3 linked regions of the Homo sapiens genome follow. The main gene of each other region encodes a partner of the protein of the gene in region 3 in a complex. Each region holds a gene or a part of one and is shown on either strand. Other genes may lie near its edges. The genes, in order: ORC4, ORC2 and ORC5. A codon is read from its position in the direction of its gene.

Region 1 (10,644 bases), on a different chromosome or scaffold from region 3:
GCAATGACCAGCTCAGTGGCTGGACCGCGAAGAAGCTCCAAAGCACTTCCCAAAGCCAAACTTGCACCAAAAAAGGCCATGGTAACTGTTTGCTGGTCTGCTGCCGGTCTGATCCACTACAGCTTTCTGAATCCTGGAGAAACCATTACATCTGAGAAGTATGCTCAGCAAATCAATGAGATGCACTTAAAACTGTGATGCCTGCAGCCAGCATGGGTCAACAGAAAGGGCCCAATTCTCCACAGTAACACCCAACCGCACACTGCACAACCAACACTTCAAAAGTTGAACGAACTGGGCTACAAAGTTTTGCCTCATCTGCCATATTCACCTGACCTCTCAACTGACTACCACTCCTTCAAGCATCTCTACAACTTTTTTCAGGGAAAATGCTTCCACAACCAGCAGGATGCAGGAAAAAGCTTTCCAAGAGTTTGTGGAATCCTGAAGCATGGATTTTTACATTACAGGAAAAAACAAACTTATTTCTTGTCGGCAAAAATGTGTTGATTGTAATGACCTATTTTAATTAATAAAGATATGTTAGAGCCTCGTTATAATGATTTAAAATTCGCTGTCCCAAACCACAATTTCTTTTGTACCAACCTAATGCATTGACAGCTGATTTCTCAAAATCAATAATGAAAACCAAAAACAGTGAAATGTTATCTTCAAGGTACAAGTAAAACAACCACAAATCTGTAATATCCCCCAAAACATTCTTCAAGATTGAAGGCAAAACAAAAAATTAAGACAAAGCAAAAAAATTAAGAGAACTGACCATCAGAATGTCTGCATTATGAAACTTCTACTGAGTGTGCTAAAGTAAAAGTTAAAAGATTCCAAAAGAAAAGTCAGAGACGCAGGAAGAAATTAAGACATGGTAAACACATAGGAACATCTAGCTCAAAGTACTGTCCAGCAGCAATACAGTAAAAGTGACATAAGTAATTTAAAATTTTCTATTGTTCACACTAAAAGAAAACAAGGTGAAATCAATTATAATTTCAACATGTAATCATAATGAAAAGCTGAGGTATTTTACATTGTTTTCATACTGTCTTTGAAATATGGTGTTTATACAACATTACAATGCAGATGCTAAATTAAAACTGCCATATAAAATACTTGATCTATATTTTTATATAATTTGCAGCTAATGCCGGGTGCAGTGGCTCACGTCTGTGATCCCATCACTTTGGAAGCCCAAGGTGGGTGGATCACTTGAGGTCAGGAGTTTGAGACCAGCCTAGCCAAAATGGTGAAACTTTGCCTCTACTAGAAATAAAAACATTAGCCAGGTGTGGTGGCACATGCTTGTAATCCCAGCTACTAGGGAGGCTGAGGCAGGAGAATCACTTGAACTTGGGAGGCGGAGGTTGCAGTGAGCCAAGATCATGCCACTGGACTCCAGCCTGGGCAACAGAGCGAGACTCCATCTCCAGGGGGGAAAAAATCTCCAAAAATTAAAAAATAATAATTTAATAATTTGCGGTTAAGAAAGGTTTATGTATCCGAGTTGTTCCAAACATACAGGTTTTACAGTAACTGAATCAAGTGTCAGTTTTTAAACTTAATTGAACACTAAATAAAACTAAAAATTCAGTTCCTCAGTCATACTAGCCACATTTCAAGTGCTCAAAAGCCACACGCAGCTAGTAGCTACTGCAATGAATAGCACAAGCATAGAACTTGTTATCTGGAGTTTAAACTACGTATACAATTCAAAGAACAATGACAGCCTATAAGACCTACATGAAGATAAAAGTTGCCATCCCAGAAGAGAGTAATGCTCCAAGCACAGAGAAGATATTGGCCATACTGCTAGAAATCCCTGAGTAAAACAGACAACCCAATTAAAACAAAAAACAAACAAACAAAAAAACCTCCCAAAAAGATTTAAAAAGACAATGCACAAAAGATTTAAGAATTAAAAAGACAATTCTAGAAAGAGGAAATTCAAATAGCCGGTAAGTTTTTGAAAAAGTGCTCAAACTCTTTAGTGTCCTGGGCAGAATAAATTAAAACAACAATAAGATAAAGCCACATTCATCAAGTTGGGAAAAAGGAAAAATAACTCTTGGTGAGACAGTAAAAGTAAAGGGATCTACCATATACTGCTGTCGGGGTATACATTGGTGTATCTACTTTGGAAAAGGCATAACTAGTGAAGTTGAAGATAAACATACGTACTCTACAAAAACCCATGGTAATGTACATTAAGAATACATGTACAAGAACATTCATAATAGCATTGTTCATAACTACTAAAAACGGAACACAATCCAAATGTTTATTAATATTAGACTAAACTGTGGCTCATTTCCATTAAGACTTTTTATACTATACTTATTATACTATAGATTACTACAATCCAATATAAGAACTAGAGCTAAATGTACTAATAGAGTTATATCCCAGCTGCATGAGAGAAAAAGATACATAATGATATGTAATATATAATCCACTTACATACAATTAAGAAACAGGCAAAACGAACCTAAATTGCTTAGGAATGCTGACATAGGTGGTTAAGAAATACTAAGAAAGAAAGCAGTAAATGATTGCCATAAAAATCAGTATAGTGTTAACCACTGAAAAGAATTGAGGAAAGGGATGATCAGGAATAGAATGGAGAGGGGAGCTTCTCAGGTGCCACAGACGTTCTAGTTCTTGACTGTGGCAGCGCTTACATAGAGTTCACACTTTATAGTTTTTCATTATACTATGTATCGATGTTTGTATGCTTAAATACTAAATGTATGGAAAAAGACACAAAATATTTAAAATTGTAGCTAAGGCACATTAACTGCCTTGCTGGTATTTTTTTTTTTCATTACAAAGTGGCAGACAATTGGTTACACTATAAAGACAGACAATTGGTTACACTACAAAGAAAATTTTAAAGCACAGGAGTCTAGTTTTGATTCCATCGGACATGATTACCGTACACAATACAGAAGATACTAAGGGCTAAGCAATGATGCATAAACGGGGTCCACTGCCCAAACTTACAGAAAGCAAAACGTGGAAAATTAGTAACTTTAACTGATAGTGTACACCTAAAGAACCTACACCGGCCGGGCGCGGTGGCTCACGCCTGTAATCCCAGCACTTTGGGAGGCCGAGGCGGGAGGATCATTTGAGGTCAAGAGATCGAGACCAGCCTGACCAACATGGTGAAACCCCGTCCCTACTGAAAACACAAAAAAATTAGCCAGGCGTGGTGGCACATGCCTGTAGTTTCAGCTACTCGGGAGGGTGAGGCAGGAGAACTGCTTGAACCCAGGAGACAGAGGTTGCAGTGAGCCGAGATCGCGCCACTGCACTCGTCTGGGAGACAGAGCGAGACTCCGTCTCAAAACAAAAAACAAACAAAAAGAACCCACCCAACAGAATTAAGTACCAACATAATAAATACGAAGAATTTTAGATTCTTGGTTTTTAAAAAACATACAAAGATGATATTCCTTCAAAATATCTTTACAAAACATATTGAGACTGTGATGCTTTATATTGATTGTATGAAAACAATGAAAAAGAACCAGCACTGTTTCACTATAAAAGCTTTACTAATGTAAATTTATAAATCCTTTCTTAAATATTTTGAGTTAATTCTAATTTTATGATAGAAATTCATTATTTTCAGCAAAAACAGCTGGCATTTGGGAAACCAAAGGCTCAAAAACTAAGAATAGTAACCAAAGAAACTTGACAAAACAGTCCTTTTAAAACTCTCATCTACACTATAAGGGGAAACTTTGATCACGTCCCTTCTCCTTCATCAATCGTAGAACTCAACATTAAGGACTACACAATCCCACATCCCTCTCCGAGAAAAAGCAAAGGCTTTGTGTTGTAGCAACAACGCAAGACATGGAGGGAAGCTCCACTCAAGACTTCCCTGCCTGCTCCTTCCCCAAAGCCACTCCAGAATACCAGGGAGGGTTGAGAGGTAAGGCATGAAGGGCGCAATATCCAATATGAGCAACGCGTGTGATGCATCTGGTCAAAATGCATACAGAGGACTTGTCTCTGTCCCTAGATAGAAGTCCTCCGTCCTGCAGTCATGAGGGTCAATTGCTGAGGCTTCACAGTTCCCTTCTCTCTTACACTCGGACCGTCACGCTCCTCACCTACTACCCCGATGCAGAGGTAGACTCAGGATCCCTGCACTTGTCAAGGATTCCTCGGCAAGCTCACGGGGCGGGAGTGGCCACAAGACGGAGCTCGCCTGGTCCTGGCCTTCCCGGCCTATACAAGCCTGCCCCCTTCCCAATTCCCAATCTCCACAGCCTTCCATCCTCCCACTTTCGATTCACCTTGCGCCACCGACGCCCCTGGCCTTCGTTTGCAGCAAGTTTACCCCCACCATTACCTCTCGCATAAAAGCCTGCATTTACCAGGTCAAAGAGGGGAACCAACGCCTGCAGGAATCGCTTCACCGAATCGCCTGGCCGCGTCCTCTGCTAGACTTCACCTGCCGCTGCGGACCGTACACAACCACTCCCGGCATGCCCCGCGCACGCACTACCTCTCCCACCCCGCCCCTCTCCCGCCCAAACACGTGACCTCCTTTCGTCTCCGTCCACGCCCACTTCCGTTCCTCCACTTTCCCTTAGGAAGGAGGAGGGAGCTGGGGGTGTTAAAAGCGTAGCGACTTCCTCCTCCTCCCCGCCCCCGCTCCTGTACCTCCCGCTACAATGTCTTCCGGGTCGCTAGCGCCTCGACGCCTTCTGGGAAAATAGCTCATTTCCTCCCCTCCCCCTCCTCCTGCCTTCAACCAACCAGCCACCCGTCAGAGAGGGACATGCGCAGTGAGTGCCTCCCGTCTCTTCTACCCGAACCCCCCCTCCCCCCCAAGCAGAGAGACCCCAGCAGCAGCAGCAGCTGATGATGAAGAGAGAGGCAGTGGCAGAGGGGGGGCACCTTTTATTTCTATTTTTAAAGGGACAGGACACTAATTCTACCCCACTTCAACCTTGAATTCAGGGGGGTGGGGGGAAGGCGGCTGAGTTCCTTCCCCCACCCTCCAGCCCTGAGCCCTGAGAGGGGGATTGAGCCTGAGAGAGGAGAAGGAGTTTCTTCTTCTTCGAAAACCCCCATCCACGACTCCTACCCCCTCACCCCTCCAACTCGCCTCCCTCCCTCCACCCTCCTCCTCTTTGGCCGTGAGAGGAGGAGAGAAAGAAACCAAAAGCCTCTTAGCAACACAGACCCTTTGCTGCTGCTGTTGCTGCTGCTGCTGCTGTTGCTGCTGCTGCTGCTACTGCTGCTGCTGCTACTGCTGCTGCTTGGCCCTGGCTGGAGACATCTCACTACACCCAGGAGCAGCCACTTCCCCAGCTCTCCTCCTCCTCCTTCGCCTCCTCCTCCTCCACTCCCCCCCTTTATTACCCTTTGTGTCATCCTCCACAGCTCCAGGGAAGGCACTCAAAAGTGGGGGGCAGGAAAGGTAAGTGTGTCTGTGGGGGCTTCATTGCCTTCCTCTGGCTCTGACTTTCACTCCGGGGCAACAGTAGCACCAAACCACATACGCAGTGGAGCTCCGGGGTGAGGAGGGGGTGGTGCTGGGGGGGGTGAAGGAGGGGTTGGAGTAGGGAGGGGTGTGTGAGGTGGGGTGCCCATCCTGTCAGGGGAGGAAGGGCACTTTTATTTTTATTTGCTGTTGTCAAAAGTGGTTTCTCTCCTCCATCTAACATCTGATTGTGTCTTGCTCCAGTGGGGGAGAATACAAAAACAACCCCCTCCTTCCTCCAATGAGGCGCCAGGGAAAGAGACAGAAAGAGGCACACTTTCTAGATGTCACTTAAAAAAAATTCATTGGAGAGCTCTTTTTCTCCAGGAAAAGCTCCACTGCATTTGTTTCTGAGTGGGAAAATGTCGGGATCTGGATTGTATTGGAACTGCTTATCCATTTGTAGACCTGAGTGTTTTCCCCTTTTTGGTCCTGTATGAGATTTGGATATTGACTTCAGTGTTGGAAGACTTGATTGGTTTTTGCTTTAAGGGTTTCATTTTCCATTTTTTCGTTTTGTCTGACTTCCATGGAAAATTTCAAATTTTTAGTTGGTAGAGGCCTTTGGTTAGGTTTTGACTTGCATTATTGCTTTTTTTTTGGTTAAATGTCTGTTTCATATATCAGTATATAAAGTCCAAAGCTCTAAAATGCTTAAAGTTTAAATGCCACTGCTATTGTCTGTTCCCACATACGTTCCTGATACTTATTTTCCATATGATGAGAATATTAGCTATTTTATAATTAATCTGGGTATATTTGTAATCTTTGTAACTTGTCTGAACAAGTAATCCCCATTGAAAACTTTATGTTGTTCTGGCTGCATGGAAGGCCAAACCTCTCCATCAATAGTTTGCTGGATTGGTACCACTTTCAGTTTTAGCTGAATTATTTATTTACTGTTGTAAATTGAGATGAGTTTTTCATCTCAATTTCTCTTGGGGTTCTGAACCAAATTGCCCACTGTATGTAAAAGTACACAAATTTCTAAAATATGTTTTCATGAGTCAAAGAAATCATGAACTTATAGTTAGTATATTAATTTCAGTTAGCTATAAATTGAAAGGTAAATCCAGATTTAAGTTTATGGAATAACAATATTGATAAAAATCACTTCATTTTTGTATAATGTGTTCTTAGTGCATAGCTTTAAAATTCAGTGCTGTATTTTATTTCACAAATGTTAGAAAGTATGTTTCTGATGTAGGCCTTTTACTAGGGCTTATATTGGAAAGTGTTATTTTGTTTCATATATACATTTCTTTATTCTTTCCTTGAAGATGGATGCACACATGCATATACACACACTCTCTTTCGCTCGCTCTCTCTCCCTCACACCCTTTTTTTTTTTTTTGTAACTGCATTGGTATCTCTGATCCCATAATTTATGTCAGCAAAAAATATTCTTCTGTAAAGCAGCAATTTTGTGATCAGACTGGCAATATGAAAACAGCAATTTGATCAACTAGAAAGGATTGAAGAAATATAAATCTAGAAGGATATTTGGCAAAAATATTATAAAGACATGATAATACTTCTAATTTTTTATTTTCTTGATGGTTAAAGCTAAAACATATATTTTAGTGACAGTGAAGCATTGCATATGTAGAAACTTGTTCTGTAAAATTTTAATTATCAACTGTGTGCAAAAGTAGACATTTACATACCGAAATAAAAAAGCTTTATAGCAGTAAACAATATGATCTTATTTCCCTTCTGTTATAAATTTGAACAATTTTTTACCTTTCTCTGAGATGTAATTAGTGCACTTAAGCAGAAATCTGTGCCAAGTTCAAGTTTTTCTCCCAACATCAATACTGCCATTCCAAGTCCTTGTAAGGTTTCTTGTTCTCACCTTAAAACCTCAGCAACTTTAAAGGTAAGAGAGAGACAGTAGAACTTACTGAAGAAATTAATTTTAGGTAAGGGAATTATGTAGATAATTGGGGTGGTAGTTGCCCAGTAGGCAGCTGAGTAAAAATTTAGTCTTGAGTTTAATGTCTTTCCTTATTTTGTTTCTTTTTTTTTTTTAAACATTTTTTTATCACACCCCTCACCCTCACCCCCATGATCCTTTATGGTTAGAAGATTGCAGACTTTATCTAAGTTGGATAATGATTTATGTTTAGAAAACCTTTTTAAGTATTAAGAACCATTGATACTTTAGGATTGTAATTGTTCAACTGGGTGGTATCTTGGAGGTCACTTTATCCAACTCTACCTATTGCTGAAGTTCTAAGAACTTGAACTTGCCTGAGGTTCCAAGGCCTGGAAGTGACAGAGCAGGGACCAGGGAACTCAGGTCTCCTGATGCTCACTATGCTGCACTACCTCATTTCCTTTGTCAGAAATGAAACTATTATGTACAGTTCTGGGTATACCACTTGAGGGTTTCATATGGGAGCATGTTATTGTAAGAATATTAAGGTAAATGGCTTTAAAGCTATTATTTTGTCTACTTAAATTTAGTAATTTGTTAATTTTTTAAAGTACTAATTGCACTTATTGTAGGTTATTACTATTTTGAAAATAATTTCAGCTTTCTCTAATACTTATTTTCCTCCTGCACTTACAATTAATCAGTAAATATACTTACTGTTGTATTAAGGGCCCATACTTATAAGAATAAATGGAATGCATATTCTCTTATAAATGCTTACTTGTGAGTCTTGCCCTATGAACTGCCTAAAAACAAACATTTTTGTTTTGTTAACACATCCTTCTACTCTTGGCACAATATCTGGTACACAGTAGTTCCTACTGGTAGCTTGTCATAATCCATGTTAGTTTTAGAGTTAGGCATATTTGAATTTCTTTACTTCCATATGTGGAATTCCTTTCCTCTCCTTTTCTTGTCCTCCCTTGCCACAATTTTCACTATCATGAACATTTTTTCTTTATCTCTACTGTGGCTCTCATTTTATCTAATTAACAGCCAAATTAAATACTGTTAACAATATGGTACTCATAGTAACAAGACATATTCCCTTCTTATACAGGAAGCAGTTTGGCAAAAGTGATATATTATGAATAAGCAATAATGATCCAACACATTCCAGTTAAAAATATACTTGTAAAAATTGTTCAGGATGCACTTAAATTTCATTGACCGGTGCAATAGGTTGTTGGAATGATTAGGCCGCTTTTACCAGCTCTATAAAACAAGTGCTACTTAGGTGACATGTTTCCCTGACTTTGTTTTTTTGGTCCTTACCCAGACAATTATCAACTTTCCAGTTTTCTATGGATATGAAGATTTACTCCTAGTCATCAGTGGGACCCCCATGAAGTCAGCCAGAAAGCCTATATCCAACTTATGTACCTTTGCAAACTTGTCTGGATTTTGACTGTATGTGCAAAACAGATTGTACTTAGCGATTCATTAAACATCTTTTGATCATCTGCTGTCTGCCAGGCACTGTGCTAGGCATCTGAAAAACAAAGATGGTCCCTGCAGTTTAATGTGAAGAGCTATCTTAATTGTATTCCACAAGTGTATTGGTCGTATCTTTGTTTTGGTGTTTCTACCTAAATAAATTTTATATTAACTAAATGGATACTGTTAGGTGGAAAAATGCATGTTTAAGAAAGATATTGCTGTTATTTTATTAAAATACAAATATATAAAGAAAAATTTTCCACTTAATACTGTATTCTAGGGATTTATATTCTGTATATAGTTAACACATTTTAGACAATGAAAATAGCCTATGTGGTTGCCTTTGCTGGATTTTTATTGCTAACCGTAATTCTTTTAAGATGACCAACAATGTTCATTAAGTTATCTCATTAAATTTTTCCAAAAAAAAAAAAACACCCCAAACCCTCTAAACTTAAATCTTTTTCTCAAAAGTAACTTTTTTCTTTTTTATCTCATATAACAGATTATCATTCATGATTCATTGGAAGACATTGTACATTTTCATTTTGAGTTTTCAGATATTTTCTACCAAATTTTAGCAAATCTAACAGCATGATTTAATTATTCTGCAGTAATTAGTGTGCACTATTTAGGAGTTTTGGAATTTTTAGTATGTAGTAGAAATATCATTGCAAAATCCTCATAAGAAACTTCCCAATTCTAGTTCTAAGTCAGTTGTAATTTTTAATCTTTATTAAGTGGTATAATCTCTATAGCTTTAGTAAAATGATTTGGAATTTTCTTAGTAGATAGATGTTTCAAAAACAAAGAATCTTATCTCAGTTCCTGTCATGGCTTTCATGTGTAATCGAAAAGTATATTAGAAAAAGTACTGGATTAAATTTGCCTTTCTTAAAGTATACCTTTTACAAAAGTATTGATTTGCAGTTAAAAAGAAGGTGGGGATGCCTCTGCTGGTGCAGTATCTTGTGAAGATAAATAGACTCCTGAGTGGTGAATTCTGATCTCTTTCACGTTCATTCTTAACTTTCTATTTTAGTAATAATCATAGTTACCATTGATTATAAGTACCCAGCACTGTGATAAATTGAATTCACATTACATTTATGACACTTTCTAATTCAAAACACAGTCACAGTAGAGTTTTTATCAATCTGTACACTGGTAAGCGATGGTAAAATTATGGCCCTGATAGCTTCACAGACTAATGGAAAATTTCTGAAAGTTTACAAGTACAGAAAAACAAAGAAAAAAAACCCAGTCTTTTATAAGGAATGTAGATACAGACCATTGTACAATTTAAAATATACATAATGTCAGTCTTTTCTTTGTATGGCAAAAATGACATTTGGGAACTGCTCATGGTGACTCAACGCTTGTAATGTAATCCCAGCTACTCGGAGGCTGAGGCGGGAGAATTATTTGAGCCCCAGATTTTGAGGCTGCAGCGAACTATGCAATCCAGCCTAGGCCACAGAGCGGGACCTTGTCTCTAAAAATAAAAAATAAGGTCAGGTGGAATAGCTCAAGCCTGTAATTCCAACAACTGGGAGGTGAGGTAGGAGGATTTATCACTTGAGGCTAGTAGTTCAGGGTCAGCCTGTGCAATGTAGTGAGATCTGATCCCTACAAAATCAAAATAGTAGCTGAGCTTGGTGTGGTGCACACTGTAGTCCCAGCTACTCAGGAGGCTGGAGAGGATCTCTTGAACTCAGGTTGAGGCTGCAGTGAGCCATGATCATGC
Region 2 (10,333 bases), on a different chromosome or scaffold from region 3:
GGCTCTACCTTCTTATTTACCTCAGTGACAATGTAACTGTGAGTGTGCATGTATATTCACATTAGTGTACATTTTAAGCACTTCCTTATGTTCAAGTCTTTTTAACTGCAAGGATAAAAGTAATTATCATAAAAAGAAAGTATTATGTTTTGATTTCAATCATTCTTCTAGGTGTTTTAATGGAAATTTAAAATTTAATCTGAGGTGTGTGAAAATAATAACAGTGAAAAAATATTCTAGGAAATAATGTTAAAATAGTAAAATAATGCTTATAGAACAAATCTGTTCATAAAATTCTGAAAGTCTGTAGTACACATACATAAGATTAAAGTAAATATTATCCTTTCATTTAAAGAACTATGCTGTGGAAAACTTTATAATTTTTTTTTCTAATTGTTATATTTATTAATCTTGACAAAGGAAATATTCAAGTTTTTTAAACCAATAACATAATTCTAAGAAATGCTATTTATCTTATCAATGGCTGTCAAGTCTGATAAACACAAATTTCTTAAAAACTGTAGAATTTCTGGGAAGAGTCATACAATAAAGTGACATTTCTATATCTGAGTCATAATGTCTATTTTTACATTTATTTTTATATATGACTAAATATCTGAAACTCACTGTAAAAAGAAAAATGTTAACTTACTTTAACATAAAGATTCATGTAAATATTATTCTTTATTTTACAAGGGTTTGTAATGATAATACTTACTGTAATTGCAGCATCCATTTATGAAATAATTTTTCATACTGTTGATTTAGTTGTTTAAGTTCGGCAGAAAAGGAAGGGGAAACCTTGCTCAATAAGTTACGCAAAGTTTGCTTTAAAAAAAAGGAGGAGGGGAAAAAAGTCATTCTCAAAGCACAGACAGCAAATCAATCCAAACAATTTCCTTAGAAGTAGAGCTTAGAAGAAGCCAATCCAATTGGAATATTACTTTAATCTGGTTTGGCAATGAGTATATCAACCGATAAACAAAATTCTTAAAAAATAATTTTTTTGTTTTCTTAAAATTGTTAACATTCTTTTTAGTAATAACAGTAAAGAATTTGGTAAGTTTTGTCCAGAACCACTTAAATGATTATAAACTCCAAGAATAGGCTTTACTTTCTCAGAAAACATTAAAGGTTCTTTATAATTTACTTACTATTATCATTAGTAAAATAAACCTATATCACTGCTCCTCTTCCAAAAGCTGTTTCTAACAAATCCTTTATCTTTGGTAAGTATTGCAAATTTTTAAAAACAATAATATAAATAAACTGAGGAAAGTGCATTGCCCTGTACCCCAAACTTGGAAATTCATGCTGATGAATCAGAGATCATTTTTTGAAATGAAAACTCTAGCAAAAAGCTACACATGGGTCTTCACTTTGGCACTACCATGTTTTCATGATTCCACCACCTTTCAAGTAAAATATTATTTAAATACTGAAGATTAGAGTTGCGATAAATATTCCAGGTACTCTGGCTTGTACTGTGTTTATTTAGTCACAGTTAAAGCAAACAGAACTACCTTTAAGTAAAATTGTTAAGTAGGTAGTTAAAAAAAAACAACTCTTATCTCTTCTGAGTTCAGAGCCCTGAAAAAGCAGAGAAAGCACTAATATCTTTTCCAGCAGTCATTTACACTAGATTATCTGAGCATATTCACACTTGAGTGTGAACACTAGAATGTTATCTCATGTATGTACTTTCATTTCAAACTTTTTTTTTTTTTTTTTTTTTTTGAGACAGAGTCTTGCTCTGTCACCCAGCCTGGAGTGTGGTGGCACAATCTCAGCTCACTGCAAACTCCACCTCCCAGGTTCAAGCGATTCTCCTGCCTCAGCCTCCTGAGTAGCTGGGAGTACAGGCGCGTGCCACCACGCCTGGCTAATTTTTGTAGTTTTAGTAGAGATGGGGTTTCACCATGTTGGGCAGGCCGCTCTCAAACTCCTGACCTCGTGATCCTCCCGCCTTGGCCTCCCAAAGTGCTGGTATTACAGGTGTGAGCCTCCATGCCCAGCCTCATTTCAAACTTTAATTAATATTCATGGAAAACTGCACTTTCGACCCCAATATCCAGCTGTACTAGAATGAAGCAGAACTGGCAATCTAGTTTTGAGCCTGGGCTGTAAGAGATTGTGTGTTTTCCCACTTTTCCTCTTATGCCTCTGCCACTGTCATGAGGATAACATGCCTCAGCTAGCCTGCTGGTCCAACGAGGAAAAGAAACATGGAGCAAATCCTAGATCAGCCAACTTCTGACTGACTTGCAGACATGAAAAATGCTTATTGTCACATGCTACTGAAGATTGTATTGGTTAGCTATGCTATGTTTACGCCCAATGAAAGGCTTTCGTCTCCCTCACTGACAGGTGTTTCTTTCATCCTCCTAGAGATCTTTTTGCCTCTAAGTCTGATGAAGTCCTATTGTGAGTCTAGACTCATGTGTCCTTCTCCCATATTGCTTATATTCTCTGATCCGAGTCTCAATACCAATGAGCCAGGACTTAGATTATCAATTGCAATTATTACTGACAAAGATTTTCTCACTCAGATGGTTCTGTCTCCTCTCACAGAGATGTAAAACCCCAGCAAGTATAACTGTATGGTATTTTTTTTTTTTTTTTTTTTGTAAAATGAGCTACTGGAACCATGGTACATAGTAATCTTGTTACCTTACCACACTGGGCAGGTTTTCCATAATATCCTCAAGCAGAATATCCTCTACTTTGTGCAAAGTTTTTAACTGAGAGAAAGTCAGGTTGCAGTTGCTGTTTTATGACCAGTGTGAGATTTAGTGAATACATATAGGTTAAATGAATAACAGAGATAAATGGTAAATGGATATCAAGGAACTATGACCCTGATGATTATCATAGATCCTGAAGAAATAATAAACGAGTAAGAGGGGAAAAATGCATAATTACAGTCTGTCTAATCCAGTAAATTATTTATTTATTTATTTAAATTTTTAGTAACAACGAGGTCTCCCTATATTGCCCAGGCTGGTCTCAAACTCCTGTGTTCACATAATCCTCCTCCCTTGGCCTCCCAAGGTGCTGAGATTACAGGTATGAGCCAGGTGTGCCCGGCCTATTTACTATTTATATAATAAAAGAAGTAATAATCACATTAACTTGTGTTTCATTTGATCAGGACAATAATTCTACTTGTGTATACTTTTCAAATCTGTTGCTTACGTAGCATATTTTTCAGGACAGAGTAAAAAAAATTTAGAAGTAACATTCCTTGTAACATACCTGATCCAGTTTAGCTCTCTTTAGCTTCTGCAGTGTTCTATCAGAGGTTAAAACTTTTGAACTGCTGTGAGCTTCAAAATATTCTTCTACTAAGTCACTCTGAAAGTGAACAGAGTAGTCAGTCCTTAGTAGCTTCAAATATCTGTCTCATATCAAAATTAGACAGTAATATTAATGTAAAATAGGACACGTGAAATTCTTTACTTGGTAGTATTTTCTTTTTAAAGCAACAGTACCAGTTAAGGACCAAGCATATTTAATTTCAGTAATAAAACTGAGTAATTACTAGGATCATATAAGTTAAAGAAATGACTAGGTGAAGTAGTAGTCTGTTCCTAAAAATGATTCCTAAGTTACAATATGTAATTTCCATTTAGACTAAAAAAAGAGAGATGGTTTTATATATCAAGATCTTTGTTTCTCCTCAAGTAAGTCTTTTTTTTTTCCTTTCTTTATTGAGGAAGGGTCTCACTCTGTCACCCAGGCTGCAGTGTAGTGGTGCAAATACAGCTCACTGTACCCCCAACCTCCTGGGCACAAGGGATCCTCCTACCTCAGCCTTCCAAGTAGCTGGGACTACAGGCATGCACCACTACACCTGACTAATTTTTTAAATTGTTTTTTTTTTTTTTTTGCAGAGACAGGGTCTTATTATGTTATCCAGGCTGGTTTCAAACTCCTGGCCTCAAGCAATCCTCCCACCTTGCCCTCCCAAAGTGTTGGGATAACAGGCATGAGCCACCATGCCTGGCTTCAAATAGTCTTAGCAAATCCTTTAATATTAGTATAGCTGAAGTACTGTGAAAATGAGGAAATCAACTGCAAGGTAACAAAAGAAAAAAAAGAAACCCACAAACAAATAAAAAAACTGGCCTACTATTCCAGTCAAGCGGAATTTTCTTCTCACACTATTTGTTCTTCTGATTTTGGGCAGGACTAAACTCTAGGGTGGTAAGGAAGGGACAGAAAGCTATTTAAGCAGTAGGCTCCTCAATTGCTCTGAACCTTTAGACAGAGCACCAGGATAATTAGCCTTTTCTAAAACCAAGGTGCCTGCAATGTTCTTCCAAATGACTCAACATGGGTCCCTAGCCACATCATTCATTACACTGACTTGAATACATTGACAATGGTACAAAAACAAGATACACTGAGAACTCATGCCTCCAATTGTCCAATCAATATTTACTTAAAAGTTCATTTTTTATTTTTGTTATTTTTTATTCTAATCCCATAGCTTATTTAAAAATTTATTTATTTATTTTTGAGACGGAGTTTCGTTCTTATTGCCCAGGCTAGTACAATGGCATGATCTCGGCTCACTACAGCCTCTGCCTCCTGGGTTCCAGCAATTCTCCTGCTTCAGCCTCCCGCGTAGCTGGGATTACAGGCACACATCACCACACCTGGCTAATTTTTGTGTTTTTAGTAGAGACAGGGTTTCACCATGTTGGCCAGGCTGGTCTCGAACTCCTGACCTCAGGTGATCCACCCGCCTTGGCCTCCCAAAGTGCTGGGATTACAGGCATGAGCCACTGTGCCCAGCCTAAAAAGTTCATTTTTATACAGTGGAATTGAGATGTCACTTTTAGCATATACTATTTAGCATATACTATGGTATTAATTCATGAATATGTAGACAGGCCAGAAAAGAAAGCCCAGAAGTAGAAACAAATATATGTGGGAATTTATGTGGAAGGCTGAGAAAATATAGAAAAGTGAAGAAAAAATATTATTTTGAGAGATGTGGATCTCTTAGGGTAGCCTATCTTTGAAATATTACACAATTTTTCTTTAAGGTTAAAGTCTCTCTCTTCACTTACTGTTTTATCTCTTTTCATTCTCTTAGAAGGTGTTTCTTTGCCAACAGGAGCTGAAACTACTCTATTCTGAGCTTGAATCTTTTGGCTGAATATGACTGCATTAGTGTCCTCTTCATGTTCCTGTGCAACCCCTTCATCATCCTCTGAGTTGGAAGCAGAATATTCGCTTTCACTGTCAGAATGAGACCTTGGAACTGTGGGGGGAAAAATAGCAATTTGGACAATTTCATGGTTTGACAAGAGAGGCATTGTGGGGTAAAGCAAAGAGTGGGGGCTCTGTAGTAAGAGTCTGAATTCTGGTTTTGTCATTACCTGCTCATGATTTCACCAGAGCTAATTAACAAATTCTCTCAGCACCAGTTTATTTATCAAATTAATAGTACATAGTTTAATAAACCATTAGGAAGATTACATTGAAATGTATATAAAGCCACTAATAATTCCTGACACACAGGAACTGTGATAGAAATTGTTAATCATACCTAACACCGTTCTCCTTCCCTCTTCCTTGCTAACAGAACTCCAATTTTGCAAAATATGGCAATATGCCCCATCCTAGGGGATGAATCATGGTAACTGCCTTTTTCCTCTTCAAGGTACCTGCTTTCCCAGCCTCTGCTCCAACTATGGTTGACTATGTGACCCCTTGACCAGTGAATTGAGGGAAAATAGCTGGCAGCTTCTGAGAAGGATTTTCCTCAATTACGGAAGAAAAGCCCCTATTTATACCCATCGTTTAAAGCTATGAAAGCCATTTTGCAATATGAAGTATCAAACCTAAAGATGAAAAATGCTGGTGGCAGAGTAAAAGATAGGAAGAATCTGGGTCCTTAATGATACTGTTAAGTCACATCAACCATGGAACTTGCATCTCCATACTTGTTTTGATGTGAGATACTTAAATGTCTATGGCTTAAACTACCATTATAGAATTTTCTGTTGCTGCCTACTGAAAACGTCATACTAACTAATATAGCACTCAATAAATGGTACTTATGATTATAATTATTACTAATACATACACATACACCATCCCAGAGTTGATTCAAGAATTGTCTTTTTAAACAAACCACAACCTCATCCCTACAACTCCCCAGAAATAATATAGCTAGTTTTACATTTATCAAATAAGAATAAAGCCAGTTTCACACTAAACAGGCATAAAACTGTTTTTAAAAGCTAACTTCCAAAATATGAGTGAAAAAACTTAAACAAATCAGCATATTTATTCTGAACAACAGATATACTGCAGAGGATTATCCCAAGTCAGCATGTAACAAATGTAGATATTAAAAAAAAAAAGAAAAAAAAAGGCTTGATTTTGTGGGCATATATAGCTCAGCAGATTCAGGTGTGCATTGACTGCTGCTCGTGGTACATGCACAGTTAGAAGTGGTGGCAGGTACCAGAAAGTATCTCTACCTTCTTTACATGTATGCTTCCTCCATGTAGGTATATATGTTTTGTGGTGATTAAGAAGGAAGAGGGAAGTTCACCTTCTCTCTAAAAAACAACCCATATTTGGGATGAGGAGAAAACATAAGACATGGGATATAGTTGACATGAAATAACAATCACAACTATACAGATCTTTTACTGCTTTAATATACCAAATCATTTAGCATTACCAATTTTATGGTGATTAAAAATACAGTTTTAACAACTCTATGAAATCCATACCTTGAAAAGAAAGGGCTATGAAGTATGAAGCCCTGATGTTAGGCTGAATTTAACAATGTTGACTAATACTATTATTGTCAAGGGTCAACATTATGAAAGGTGTTGACATCTTCCTGATATATAAAGGTCCAGTCATTTGCCTCAAAGTTCAATATTCAAAAATCTGAAACGATTTTTAATTTCCTAGAAGGCAGAAGCCATGTCTGTTTACTTGACTTTGTTTAGCATTCAGTACAACTATGAATATTTAATATTATTTCATTATAAAATTTCCAAATAAATCAATAGAATAATTTCCAAACTGTCTCAAAACAATTAAAAGGCATGTTATTTCATTGGAAAGACCTTTTAGCTGACTTCAATATACACTGACTACAATGTGAAAGACATGGTGCTAAGTGTTGCAACTAAAAGCCAAAGATTCAAAACACCAAGCAGTCTAAGTCTAGAACCTATATACTTAACTATTATTGCCTCTTGTTTAGATGCTACTTTTTATAAAAAGTCATGTAAAAACAAATACGTACCTATTAATCTTTTTCTTAGACTACGAGGTGCTGTTGACAGAAATTCACTTTTGTCATTGTTCTGTTTAGAAATAGAAAAAGCATTAAATAATAACATGGAAATTAATGACTGATCTGAGTGAAAGAGGCTAGAAAAAAAGAAAAATATTTTGCTTTCAATAGACTGCATTAGAACTAGATGAGCTTAGTTCCTAGAACTAGAAGATTATGACAAATGGGTTCAAACCATTCTCCTGCCTCAGACTCCCAAGTAGCTGTGATTATAGGCACGTGCCACCACACCCAGCTAATTTTTGTATTTTTAGCAGAGACAGGGTCTCACCATGTTGGCCAGGCTGGTCTCAAAACTCCTGACCTCAAGTGAACCGCCCACCTTAACCTCCCAAAGTACTGGGATTATGGGTGTGAGCCACAGCGCCCGGCCCAATGGAGTATTTTTTTAAAAGATAGTATTATGTAGCAATCATAAGTATGAAAGGGAACGGGCACCCCTATGTATATGGCAATGGGCCTTTTAATGTGCTAGAAATTTACTGGTGTTAAAGTATTACATTCTTTGAGGAGAGAAGGAGAGATTTACACTTTCTTACTTTCTGTATTTAAAAAATTGTAACTTTTTGTAGGAGTACAAAGTCTGTTTTTTTATAGAATACTTTAATACCATAAATTGTTAGCACATTAAAACATCCACTGTTATATACCTGTAAATTTCTAATAGTACTGATAAAAAAGTTAAAGTACCCTGTGATTTTGTCAACATGACAATATGACAAAAAAATTTAAGTTTATTGTCTTGTGATAGATTGCTGGTGTCATTAAAATCTGATTTGATTTTAAGAATAGTACTCTAGGCCGGGCACAGTGGCTCATGCCTGTGTAATCCCAGCATTTTGGGAGGCCAAGGCGGGCAGATCACCTGAGGTCGGGAGTTTGAGACCAGCCTGACCAACATGGAGAAATCCCGTCTCTACTAAAAATACAAAATTAGCCGGGCGTGCTGGTGCATGCCTGTAATCCCAGCTACTCGAGAGGTTGAGGCAGGACAACTGCTTGAACCTGGGAGGTGGAGGTTGCGGTGAGCCGAGATCACGTTATTGGACTCCAGCCTGGACAACACAATGAAACTCTTCCTCAGGGGGAAAAAAAAAAAAAAAGAATAGTACTCTAATAACTGAGCTAATCCCTTACCAATGGAATTACAGTATGTCTCAAATTTTTTGATCAAGATCCTCAAAAATTTTTACATTTTGTCATCTTGACCCAGTACACGTGTATATATAACTAAAAAAAATTATAAAACAGAAATTTAAAATTCTGTTCTACTTCATTTGTTAAAAATGCAGTTTATGTCCTATTAAACTGATTTCAAGATTGAGTATTGAGATAACTTATATATATCTACACAGCTTAAGTCTGAGAATTCACAACACCTGTGTCAAAATAACCACTGCAGAAAATTCCTGCTCAAAAAGACAAGACTAATAAATAATTTTTTCCTACTTGCTATAGAACATTTCTGCAAACTAATCTCTCTTGACAGTTTGCTCATTTGGGCAAACTGTTCTCCCTATCAGGACAACAGATTACTCCTAGGGCAAACAGCTTATCTTATCAACAGTTTAGTTATCAAGATACACTTTAAGACACGATCTTCACTGTGTCTACCAATCCTAAAATATCATGTCCCTAACTTTGCCCAATCCCAATCAGTTTACCATTTTGAAAAACCTGCTTTAAGCCACTTGAGCCCAGGATCCCCAAGCCCGATACATATTTTCTCTTGAACTTGCTTTTCTAAGACAGTACACTAAGATTCTGTCACAACGATGTTGTCTCTTATTGTGATAGGTAGCTTTGTTTCATCAACAGGTTTTTCTGGTTTTTTGGGAGAGTTGACAATATCTTCTAATGGGTTATAATCTATAACTTGAGAAAGAATAATCTAAATTCTTGATTAGATTATGGCAATGAGTTTTTTTCCTTTTATAGTGATAGAACACACAAGACATAAGAAAAAAGCATTATTAAAGACAAATGAAAGTCTGGCATGTCTAATCCCATACCTAGACTTGTCTAAATAGGACATTCCTGCACAGGCCATAACCATGGCCTTAAATGTCTATACTGACTGTGGAGACAAAAGTTACTCCATCTTGGATGCTAATCCATCACGTTAACTTCTGATTAGCCCCAGTCTCATGAATGCCTCCTGATTCCTACTTTATGTACTGCCTTCTGTGAAAGAACATGTCAACCTTGATATTATCACACAAATTACTGGCTACAATGCATATAGCATTCTTGCCCTCTTGACAATTAAAGAGGGTTGCCTTTAATTATCTTGCTGGAACATGTATACCCTTTCCTTATGGTAGGTAAGCCGTGGGTCTGGGGAGTAACACTGCAGAGAGCTACCTGTCTTGTGGCTGCCCAAGACCATGCTTCTGTCTCTAATAAAATACCCTTTACAGACAAACTAAACTTGTCTGCCTTGTCCTTTGGTTTCTTGGCTCCTTTGGCATTTGGGGGATGCTTTGCATATATGGCCCTTTCATGGAACACTCACCACTTGAAAAGGCATAATGAGAAAATTATACCACAAAAACACAAAGGAGGCCAGGCGTGGTGGCTCACACCTGAAATCCCAGTACTTTGAGAGGCCCAGGTGGATGGATCACTTGAGGTCAGGAGTTCAAGACCGGCCTGGCCAACATGGTGAAGCCTTGCCTCTACTAAAAATACAAAAATTAGCCAGGCGTGGTGGTGCACACCTGTAATCCCAGCTACTCAGGAGGCTGAGGTGTAAGAATCACTTGAACCTGGAAGGTGGAGGTTGCAGTGAGCCGAGACCACGCCACTGCACTCCAGCCTGGGCGACAGAGTAAGACTCCGTCTCAAAAACAAACAAACAAACAAAGAAAAAACCCCACAAAGGAGGAGATAAAAATATAGAGTAATGGATCTAATGCATCTTGGGATCAAACTGCACAACACTGCCCTCTTCCCCCTGCAAAAGAAACAGAACATGATACATAAAAGCAAAACCCC
Region 3 (10,333 bases):
GGTCTCGGGGTTTTTATAGGCACAGGATGGGGGCATGGTAGCCAGGGTGGTCTTGGAAAATGTAATATTTAGGCACAAAAACTGAAATGCCAGCCCTTACCTAGGTCTGTGGGCTCAGACTTGGAGTGGAGCACTAGCCAGGGACCATGGCCTTCTCTGCCCAGCACTTCCCTGCCCCCCTCCTGTATCACCGACCCTTTGGGAGGCCAAGGCAGGAGAATCACAAAGCGAGGAGTTCAGGACCAGCCTGGACAACACAGTGAGACCCTGTCTCTACAAAACAATAAAAAATTGTTTTTTTTTTTTTTGTAGGCACATTTAAAAAATGTGCCTGTAGTCCCAGCCACTTGGGAAGACTGAGTTGAGAGGACCACTTGAGCCCAAGAATTTGAAACTCCAGTGAACTGTGATCAAGCCATGCCACTCTAGCCTGGGTAACAGAACGAGACCATATCTCTAAGAAAAAAAAAAAAAACAAAACTAGGACTCTGACAACTAGTCTTGGTTGTTAGACTGGAAAACATATGTACAAATTTGTATTTACAGATTGCAAAGTAGTCATTTTCTTTGCAGACGTTTTTTGTGATTCAGTTATGTATCTTTATCAGACTATAAGATGTTTCAGAAACAAAAGTATTACATAATCTTATTAAAACAGTTTCTTATAAAAATGTTCTCTTTTAGATTACCTCTCTAGTGACCCTTCAGCTGTTAACCCTGGTTGGCCATGACGATCAGCTTGATGGACCAAAATACAAATGCACAGTGTCTCTAGACTTCATCAGAGCTATTGCAAGGTAAAATGTCTTGAATTATGTAATGATATACTAAATATAAAAATTAGTGTTTTCCAAATGTGATGTCATTAGTCATGACATTTAAACATGAAAAAATCATCTATTTAAGTGCCAAGAATGAATAAGCTGTACGATAGAATGAACCTTCTCAAATTTACAAATGATGTAAAACTGGGAGAAATAGCTAATATGTTAGAGGACAAAAATCAAGATTCTGAAAAACCTTAATAGGCTGGAATAAATGATCCCATAGTGGCAAGGTAAGATTTAATGGACAGTTGGCTACAGAAAACTCTCTTGTATTGAAATAAGATGGGAGAGAGCTGGCTTAAGTCCTAAATTTTTTAGCTGACTACAAGGCTTTAAAAATCCTGACTTAGGTAACACTGATAGAAATATAGTGTCTAGGTCAGGGGACATAATCATTCTACTGTGCGTTGTCACAGGCAGATCAAATCTAGTGTGCTGTGCTGTGTTTAGAGTTTTCAGAGAGACAAATGGATACATACTGAAGGGGCACGAGGAGAGTGGTAGAATGAGGAATTGTGTCACATCCCTGACTGAAGGACAGAGTGTGAGAGAAAAGCCTTAGGAAGGACATGTGAACTGTCTTAAGTGTTTCAGGGGCTGTCGTGCAAAATGAATGAAGCTAATTCTGAGTAATTCTAGAATGTTAGAAGTTCTGGGGAAGAAAGTACATTTGTCAAAATGAAAGCTGTCTAAAAATACAAGTTTCCTTACAAAGAGGTGTTCTTAGTGTTATGGAAAATGTTCAAACCATTTATATGAATAAGTGACTTCATCATACGGTTGCAGCTGGATAACAATCTGTCAGGACTGTAATGGAAGAGGTGATGAGTGTGTAGACTGGCAGAGTGAACAGGGCAATCCATAGACAGTGTGTTCCTAATCTTTTTCAATATGAAGATTCCATTTTAGCACCCTTTAAAAATTAGTCATGAAAGTATTTACATATATTTCAAAATTAACAGTATTTAGGCATGAGACATTATTTTGTTCAGCCTAAAACAGTGCTTGATATCAGTATAGATTTGCAAATCTCCTCTGATGATTAATTTTACAGCTTCTTGAGGTTCTGAAGTCCATAGGTTGGCAGCTTCTCCCTGAAGTCTCTTCTGAATTCAAAATGCTCTGAAAAATAAATAAATAATAAATTATTGAATGAATGGCCAGGTGCAGTGGCTCAGACCTGTAATCCCAACAGTTTGGGTGGCTGAGGTGGGAGGATTGCTTGAGGCCAGAAATTCAAGATGAGCCTGGGCAACGTAGTGAGACCCCCGTCTCTATAAAAAATGTTTTTAAGTTCTGTGATAATATGATGCAGGTATTTACCACATTTTTGTGGCATATAGGCTGTAAAACATGAATTCAAGGGTTTTAGTGTTTCATTTTAATAAAACCAGGAAAACTTTTACGCAGAGAAAATTGAGCAGAAACTTATTTTTTAGTGTGTTAAGTATAATCACAAAGCAATTACTTCCTTTAAAAAAGCAATTATATTGGAACTTTATATCTAAGAGCCTCTATCCAAGGCATAAATTTGGAGTGAAGCCTGTTCATTTCAGGGATTTTATTACTCTGAATATGTTAGGTTGTGCCCCAGTATAATCATGTGCAAAACAGAAGTTTGTGGGTTCCTAATATAGTGAATCTCCATTGAATCTGACTTAATTTGACGTTACTTAGTGCAGAGCATCACAGTGATGGATGTTAGACACATCCAGAGACATGCACTTTCATTTACCACCTCAGAAGGAAGCAAGAACTTTAGACCTGGAATCTTGACATAGAACTTGGGGGCTCTGTAACTTTCTTTTGTTTTCTTTACTGTTCCCTACTTCCCATGGGCAATATCCATAGAATAAGCACCCGCTCCTCCCCACACCTGCCCTCTTCCATTCTCTCATCCCTGTGTTTTGTACTTCTTTTCTGCTGACTTTACCTTTCATTCTTTCCCTCCCTCCCATGTGCCTTAGGAATTATTATTCTCCTAATAGTCTTCCTCATTGCCTTAGCTAAAACCTGATTCCTTCTTTGGGATGCTGCTTCCCCTGGACTTACCTCTAGTTGTAGCTATGTATTTTCTCAAACCCTAATCCCTCAGGGTTGGAGGTCATTTCGGTGCCATCCTTCTTGTTGCCACTTCCAGACTGTTACTGCCCCCAACTTCTTATAAAAATGTGGACTTCCTTGAGACTCATGCAATCTGGCTCTATTTCCCTATTCTCCTTAAGACTGATTTTTGTCTCTTCAGCCATTCCACCTCATGTATTGAGATAATAGGGCACCTGGTATCCAGACTTCTTTTCCACCTAATTTTTTTTTTTTTTTTTTTTTTTTTTTGAGATGGAGTGTCTTGCTCTGTCGCCCAGGCTGGAGTACAGTAGTGCGATCTTGGCTCACTGCAACCTCTGCCTCCCGGGTTCAAGCGATTCTCCTGCTTCAGCCTCCTGTGTGGCTGGGATCACAGGCACACACCACCATGCCTGGCTAATTTTTAGCAGAGACAGAGTTTCACCATGTTGGCCAGGCTGGTCTTGAACTCCTGACCTCAAGTTGATCTGCCTGCATCGGCCTCCCAAAGGCCTGGGATTACAGGTGTGAGCCACCGCGCCCAGCCTCCACCTAAATTCTTGACTCTGTTTAAACCCCACATTCTAACGCCTGAGTTCATTCTGTTCAGTCTTCACTCTGTTTCACAGAACAAGGTTGAAGCCATCAACTGAGAATTGAGCTACCTGTGTTAGTGTCCATCTTCTCTTTCTTTCCTTTTTCAGCAGGATGGGGTTCCTCTTCCTAAGGTAGATTCTTCTACCTATGCTCTGAATTCCATCTCCTCCACTTTCCCAGAACCTTTGTTAGTCTCGGCTGTTTGTCCTCTCAGTGGCACCTGACACTGTTGGCTACTCTTTCTTAAAACTCTCTTCTCTTAGACATGATTCCACAGTATTCTGGTTTTCCTCTTTATTCTTTGGTTGTTTTTACTAACAAAGGCTATCTTTACCATCTGACCTTTAAATATAACTGTTCCTTTAGGCTTGGCCCTAGGCTCTTTTCTCATATTACATTTTTTTCCCTAGGCAACTTGAGCCACACCTGTGACTTCAACAATCATCTGTGTATTAATAATGCCCCTGTTTTTAAAGACCAGACCTATTTTTTATAATATTCTTGACCTTTATTGCTGTTTCCCAGCTATATTAATACATTTCCAAAACTGAACTTAGGAATTCTAACCTCTGCTTCAACCCACCAACAAAAAGTGAAATATCTGGCTTTCCTCCAGTGTTTCTTATTTCAGTGATAAGCACTGCAGTCTGCTGTGTTACCCAGGCCTGAAATTTGAGTCCTTCTTGACATCTCTCTCTCCCCCACTCCTAATATTTAACCATTAGTCCTATTGAGCTTACAAAGCCCCTCTTATTTGTCTCAATTTCATTCACTTGTTATCATGATACTTTTACCACTCTAGATCAAGCCACCATCATCTCTTCTCTAACAGTCTAATTGATCTTCTGTCTGCTCTTATCCTCTTATAATTTATTATCCATGCTGTAGCCAGAATGATTTTATAAAAATTTAATGTCACCCTGCTCATTAAAAATATTCAGTAGTTTCCCATAGCTCTTGGGATAAATAACAGAATCTTTTAAATAACTAACAAGGCCCAAATGATCTGGCCCCTACCTGTGCCTAGCCCCATCTAGCACATACACCTTCTTTCCTCGGTATCTGCACTTTAACCACTTTTTTCCATTTTTTATATTCACCATTCTGCTTCCCATGCTTGTATATACAGCATTTTCCAGCTTCTTTTCTCCTTCACCTAGCTAACTGCTACATAACCTTTAGATTTCAGTTTAAATGTCTGCTCCTTAAAGACGCCTTCTCACAAATACCACAACCACCATGATCACCCCCCCATACCACACACACACACGATTTGGAAGTTCCCATTTTGTTCTTCATTATATGTAACAAGTTTTACTTAAATAATTGAGTAATTAGAGTTCATCTTTCTTTCTAGAATACAAGCTCCTAAGCTCAAAGCAGACTGTGTTTATGTCTATCACTGCCTTATCCTCAAACCTAGCACAGTGCTTTAAACTTAGTATGTGCTAAATAAATATTGCATGTTTTCCTATAGTGATTAGCAGTAAAAATTCAGATGAAGGGGAACCATATGAATTTGTTTTTGGGGACAGCAAGAAGGGAGCTCAGAGACAGTCTCATTCCAAATCAAGGCTTGATGGGAGAGGAAGTCCCAAGGATAGTTACCAAAGAAAAGGAAGGCTGGCCTCATTCCAGACACCTGTGGCAGAGAACAAATGAGATAATAGGGATCACAGGATATAACCTAAATGTCTAAAATGGCAGTCAATCAATAGCATCATGTATTTTTATAGAGTTATTGAAAATCACACTTTTGAAGGATAGTAACTTGGGAAAATAACTCATGATGTAAGCTTAAGTGCATGTAACAGTTCATATAAAGTTGCATATACAAGAAAACTAGGAAACTGTAAGGGACAGGAGTAATGGTCAAAAGTCAGTTGTCACCAAGAAATCAAGCAGAATCCTCTGATTTACTGATAAAGCAGTCATTTGTAGCTTTATCCAGAACACTTTCAGTGGTATGATGAAGTAGAAGTCATATTGTAGTATTTATGAGAAAGTAGATGTAGCAAAGAGAGATAATGTTTTTCATTCGTTTATTTAACATTTATTGTGTTGCCCATTATAAACAAAACACTGTGGTAGGCTTTGGGGAGATACAGCAACAAGTATAACATAGCTATATCCTATTCTTATTAGCCTGTATTCTAGGATTCATTTATTTACTTATTTATTTGCTATAAAGGAGAGAGAGTATTTTTTTTTCTTTTTTCTTTTTCTTTTTTTTTTTTTGAGACAGAATCTCACTCTGTCACCCAGGCTGGAGTGCAGTGGCACGATCTCGGCTCACTGCAGCCTCTTTCTCCAAGGTTCAAGTGATTCTCCTGCTTCAGCCTCCCGAGTAGCTGGGATTACAGGCGTGTGCCACAACGCCCAAATAATTTTTGTATTTTTAGTAGAGATGGGGTTTTGCCATGTTGGCCAGGCTTGTCTCAAACCCCTGACCTCAGGTGATCCACCCACCTCGGCCTCCCAAAGTGCTAGGTTTACAGGCATCAGCCACTGTGTCTGGCCAAGAGAGAGGATTATAACTGCTGAAGGGGTTATGTGGTTGAGAGAGGGTTATTATTTATTTTTTAAAGATTTGAGCATATTTAAATGCTGATAGGAAAGAACAGATAGAGAAGGAGAGTTAATGATACAAAATGGAGAAAGATTAATTTAAAGCACAAAATTACTGAAACGTTATATAAGCATGGGGTTTAGAATTTGAGTTGCAAGAGCTGTAGATGAGAGAGCGGAATCTTCTTGCGTTATAACAAGAGAAAAAGATGGATTCTGATGGAGCTGAATTTGGAGGTTTGGTGGCAAAAAGTTGAGGGAGTTCTGATCTGATGAATTCCATTTTCTCCGAGAAGGAGGAGACAAAATTGAGACTAAGGGCAGAAATAGTAGCAGTTTAGAGAAATCTGGAACATTTGAAATAGCTGCCATGGGGAATGGAAGAAACTGTTGAAAGGAAAGCAGTTTGTTGGGAGTGTTGAGGTTTTTGACCTTGAATTTACTTACAATGGCACCAATCTGTGAGACTTGTGATCTTCTCCAACACCAATCCATGTGCTAGAGACTGGGACAGCAAAGAATTATAATCGAAATCACATCGTACTGGGGTTTTGCCAGGTAAGTTCAGTGGATTCCAGCAAGTAACCACTTGACCTGATGAATCATGGAGTCTTAAGCTAGGACGGGCAGGAAGGAAGTAAAGCCAGTCGGGGGCTAATAATTCAGTGCCTAGCATATAGATACTCAGTTAATGTTTGTAGATCAGGAAAAAATGAAGCCATTTGTGAACTGATTGTCCCAACATGTTCCAGATAGCAAAAAAGGGATAAATTGGGGATCATAAGGTAGAATGTCTGAATTTATTTCTTTAGAAGTAGAGCATTTCTGAGTGTGATTATGAGAGTGGAAAAGGTTATTGGAGGTAAGAAAGAGAAATATATAGTGAAGTCACTAGGCTGACGCAGGTCTTGGGTTGGAAAGGAAGACTGAACTGTATGCTAAATTACTCAGTGACTAAGGGATGGCGACAAAGAGGATGGGGATGGTGAGCAGAATGGTCTTAATCTCAGAGTAGCAGAGCTTTTTGCACAGGACACCAGCCCCACCTGACAGAACTGTCCGGGGGTACAGTAGAGAGTTAAACATTCATTGGAAGGAGCTGAAGAAAAGACTATGTCCTTTGAGGGGAGCCTAGTTTCAGTTAAGCCTGGAAGGGGAAAATAACCATTCCTTGAAGAGATAGAGGATATAGAGACTACAGTGGAAAGGTTTGGACAGAGAAGCTGTAGGAAGCTGATTCTAGAAAGGGAACATAGAATTTGGAGATAGAGTATGGGAGAAGGCAGATAACAGATGACTGAAAAGCTTACTAAATTTTGTTCTTGGATTGTTCTTAATGTGAATGGTAGTTACACATTTTCAATTGTTTTTCTTCCACAGTCAGTGGGAAGACACTATAAGATAAATAGAGGTTACAACTTAAAGTTGTATGGTTGCAAGTTGTCAGAAAAAAAAAAAATTAAAAAAATCTCAAACTCAAACTGCCCACAAAAGTAAAAGGAAACAAAATAGTATCCTAAAGAAAGAAAAAGTATTTTAATGAATCAACAAAATGAAATAAAAGGATAAAGGCAAAATTAAATCCTTAAATATATGCCATATAATTAAGTTGTATTAACGTATTCTAAATTCTGATTTAAGAATTACTCCTAGGAAAATTGCCACCACACTATTCGTGTTTACTGTATTTCTTTCCAGCTGGTTACTTTAGAAAATAATTCATTTATGTTCTGTGGGAGAATCTCCCATAGTATATTGAAAGTTATCCCAAAGTTTAAAATTATACTTACGTGACTATAATATGCATCTGTGACCATGGAAAGCCAGGGAACATCCATGCAAATTACACAATTCTCTTGTAAGTTATACCTTTCTTTAAAGAGGATTGTTTGTCTTCAAGTACTTTAAAGCACAAAATTATCTTTCGGATGTGTGGCATAGTTTTTTATGTTGCCCCTGTGATTATTCTAACAAATTCTGCCATGTCTTAAAATAATATATGTGAGATCAATTGGCAAGTTACCTATTTATATTGGGGGTGGAGGAATGGTAGAGATAGTGATACATCTTGGGAAGTAAATGTTTCTTAAAGGAATGATTTTATATTCAATTCCTGATCGATTTTTTTTAATCTAAAACTCTTACTATGATTCAGTTTGCATGAATACTTACCACTGACAAAGTACAGAAAGGGAATATAATGAAAGTTTTATGAACATTTAAGTTGCTTAGTGTTTTTAAGTCACTCCATTCATTCTATTAAGTCTGTTCTGTTATTTATTTATTGTACAAACTATTCTAATGCTATAGTAACAAACAGATTTCTCAAAAAATAGAGAAGTCCTACAGACATCACAATATTTTCATGTATTTGTGCTCTTCTAGTACTAGTCCATTAGACAAACATTTCTCTGCAGCCGTCACAACTTACTTGCAATTATTTCTTCTCCCTTTCTCCCTTAATATTGCTGGTATATCTTCATATTGATCATTTTGTATGGCTGTATAATATTTCATCAAATAATGTATTGTAATTTATGGATTCTCCTAGTTTTGGAATTTAAGTTGTTTTAATCTTACCTGCTTCAAAAATTTTGTTTTCACCCAAGTCCAGAAAAAAAAAAAATTAGCAACACAACATTAAGTCCATTTTACCATATTACTTTAGGTTTATAACCTAAGACCCAAAGTCATTGTGGAGAAATGTGCCTGGAGAGATGTACAAATACCACTTGCCTTTTCTGTCCGTGGTTAAAAGTAGTCTATAGGTGGGAACTGAACAATGAGAACACACGGACACAGGAAGGGGAACATCACACTCTGGGGACTGTTGTGGGGTGGGGGGGAGGGGGGAGGGATAGCATTAGGAGATATACCTAATGCTAAATGACGAGTTAATGGGTGCAGCACACCAGCATGGCACATGTATACATATGTAACTAACCTGCACATTGTGCACATGTACCCTAAAACTTAAGGTATAATAATAATAAAATGAAGTTTAAAAAAAAAAGTAGTCTATTATATCCGTTTCCTTTCTATGGTCCTCTAAATAAGATCTTTTCAATCAGTATCACGATTTTTTAAAAACCATGTGTTGGCTGGGCGCGGTGGCTCACGCCTGTGATCCTAGCACTTTGGGAGGCCAAGGCGGGCAGATCACCTGAGGTCAGGAGTTCGAGACCAGCCTGGCCAACATGATGAAACTCCATCTCTACTAAAACTACAAAAATTAGCCAGGCGTGTTGGCACATGCCTGTACCTTCAGCTACTTGAGAGGCTGAGGCAGGAGAATTGCTTGAACCGGGGAGGTGGAGGTTGCAGTGAGCCGAGATCATGCTATTGCACTCCAGCCTGGGCGACAGAGCAAGACTCCATCTCAAAACAAACAAAAAGAATCATGTGTCAAAAGTACTTTGGTGCCCATAAATTTGGGTGTTTCTAGAGTTGAACGAAAGAAAAACATATAAAATAACTTTATGATTTAATAACCATACTTTTTGCGTCTTTATGCAAAAGATTTTTTTTAAACTTTTTAGTTCTGCAGTATTGTTTTGGCAGTTTTATACCATTTGGAAAGGCTTAGTATTCTTCAGAGGCACTGTTACAATGAAGCAAGTTATTCTTCAGTCCAACATTAGGTACCACAATAGCCATAGCATCTCTTTTTAGCTATTTTTAAATGTGTTTTCATAAGCAGTATCTATAGTTTCCCATTCCACATTTTAAAAAATATTTGATATGTCAGTCATTTGCTTAGAAACTTTTTTAGAAAGTATATTGCAAAATGATAGACAAAAACATTAATTGATGATGGTTTAATAAATAAGAGCATGCAATTAGTGAATCTTTAAAAGGCTGTTCTCACATGGATGATTATTTTTGCAGAATTGAATACTTAAGGCTTTAATTTTATACTTATTGCTAGATCATTATATCCAATTATTTTGACCATTTATTCAAATAATAAACCAAGTCTGAATATTTATAGTGAAGAATGAGTTTTGTGAAAGGAGAATAATTATATGTCTCTCTCTCTGCTATTTTATTCTGCCTGCCATCAGAGTACAAAAATATACATTCACATCATCTGTTTGTTGTATCATATTCTTGGATCATACAGATTTAGTTACAATACACACACAGGTCAGCCAGCGTTAAAAGACTGAAAAGAATGAAAACTATAAATGAGGACAGATGAGCTATGCATTATGTAATGACAAAACAGGTGTCTCGGAAGATAAACAATGTTCAGAAGCAAAGAAGATTTAAATACT

Evidence for each region.
Region 1: the proteins of ORC5 (region 3) and ORC4 are in contact, whole or in part, in a cryo-EM structure (PDB 7JPO), measured with the Homo sapiens proteins. Residues at the interface, in NP_002544.1 of Homo sapiens: Ile17, Ser20, Leu21, Phe22, Gly23, Glu24, His26, His27, Phe28, Ser29, Phe30, Pro31, Tyr36, Gly37, His38, Thr39, Thr98, Phe99, Asn100, Val103, Arg104, Arg131, Glu134, Asn136, Pro139, Gly140, Arg143, Gln145, Glu146, Leu147; in NP_001177808.1 of Homo sapiens: Ser18, Gln21, Arg22, Arg25, Glu26, Cys29, Arg30, Gln31, Arg69, Thr74, Asn100, Leu102, Leu103, Gln104, Ile105, Ile109, Glu113, Arg116, Asp162, Arg277, Met281, Met284, Leu285, Asn288, Met311, Asp312, Ser313, Lys314, Asn316, Ile317.
Region 2: the proteins of ORC5 (region 3) and ORC2 are in contact, whole or in part, in a cryo-EM structure (PDB 7JPO), measured with the Homo sapiens proteins. Residues at the interface, in NP_002544.1 of Homo sapiens: Asp324, Lys325, Phe328, Leu329, Leu359, Asp360, Arg361, Ala364, Tyr367, Ser368, Ala378, Asn379, Phe381, Ser382, Gln383, Thr385, Ser386, Thr389, Asp400, Gln401, Leu402, Asp403, Tyr407; in NP_006181.1 of Homo sapiens: Val240 (codon at 3,345), Glu241 (codon at 3,342), Tyr243 (codon at 3,336), Phe244 (codon at 3,333), Glu245 (codon at 3,330), Ser248 (codon at 3,321), Asp396, Gln398, Arg401, Gly402, Glu403, His426, Asn428, Ala429, Pro430, Leu431, Met432, Trp433, Asp434, His435, Gln438, Trp445.

Annotation. Positions count from the first base shown.
Region 1 is NC_000002.12:148,016,230-148,026,873, forward strand, and holds the start of ORC4 (origin recognition complex subunit 4), read right to left. Parts: upstream 4,509-10,644; 5' UTR 4,404-4,508; exon of another isoform or gene 4,379-4,403; intron 1-4,378. UniProt on the Homo sapiens protein: Component of the origin recognition complex (ORC) that binds origins of replication. DNA-binding is ATP-dependent. The specific DNA sequences that define origins of replication have not been identified yet.
Region 2 is NC_000002.12:200,930,621-200,940,953, forward strand, and holds part of ORC2 (origin recognition complex subunit 2), read right to left. Parts: intron 7,347-10,333; coding exon 7,286-7,346; intron 5,273-7,285; coding exon 5,079-5,272; intron 3,355-5,078; coding exon 3,256-3,354; intron 829-3,255; coding exon 719-828; intron 1-718. UniProt on the Homo sapiens protein: Component of the origin recognition complex (ORC) that binds origins of replication. DNA-binding is ATP-dependent. The specific DNA sequences that define origins of replication have not been identified yet.
Region 3 is NC_000007.14:104,127,245-104,137,577, reverse strand, and holds part of ORC5 (origin recognition complex subunit 5), read left to right. Parts: intron 1-684; coding exon 685-797; intron 798-10,333. UniProt on the Homo sapiens protein: Component of the origin recognition complex (ORC) that binds origins of replication. DNA-binding is ATP-dependent. The specific DNA sequences that define origins of replication have not been identified yet.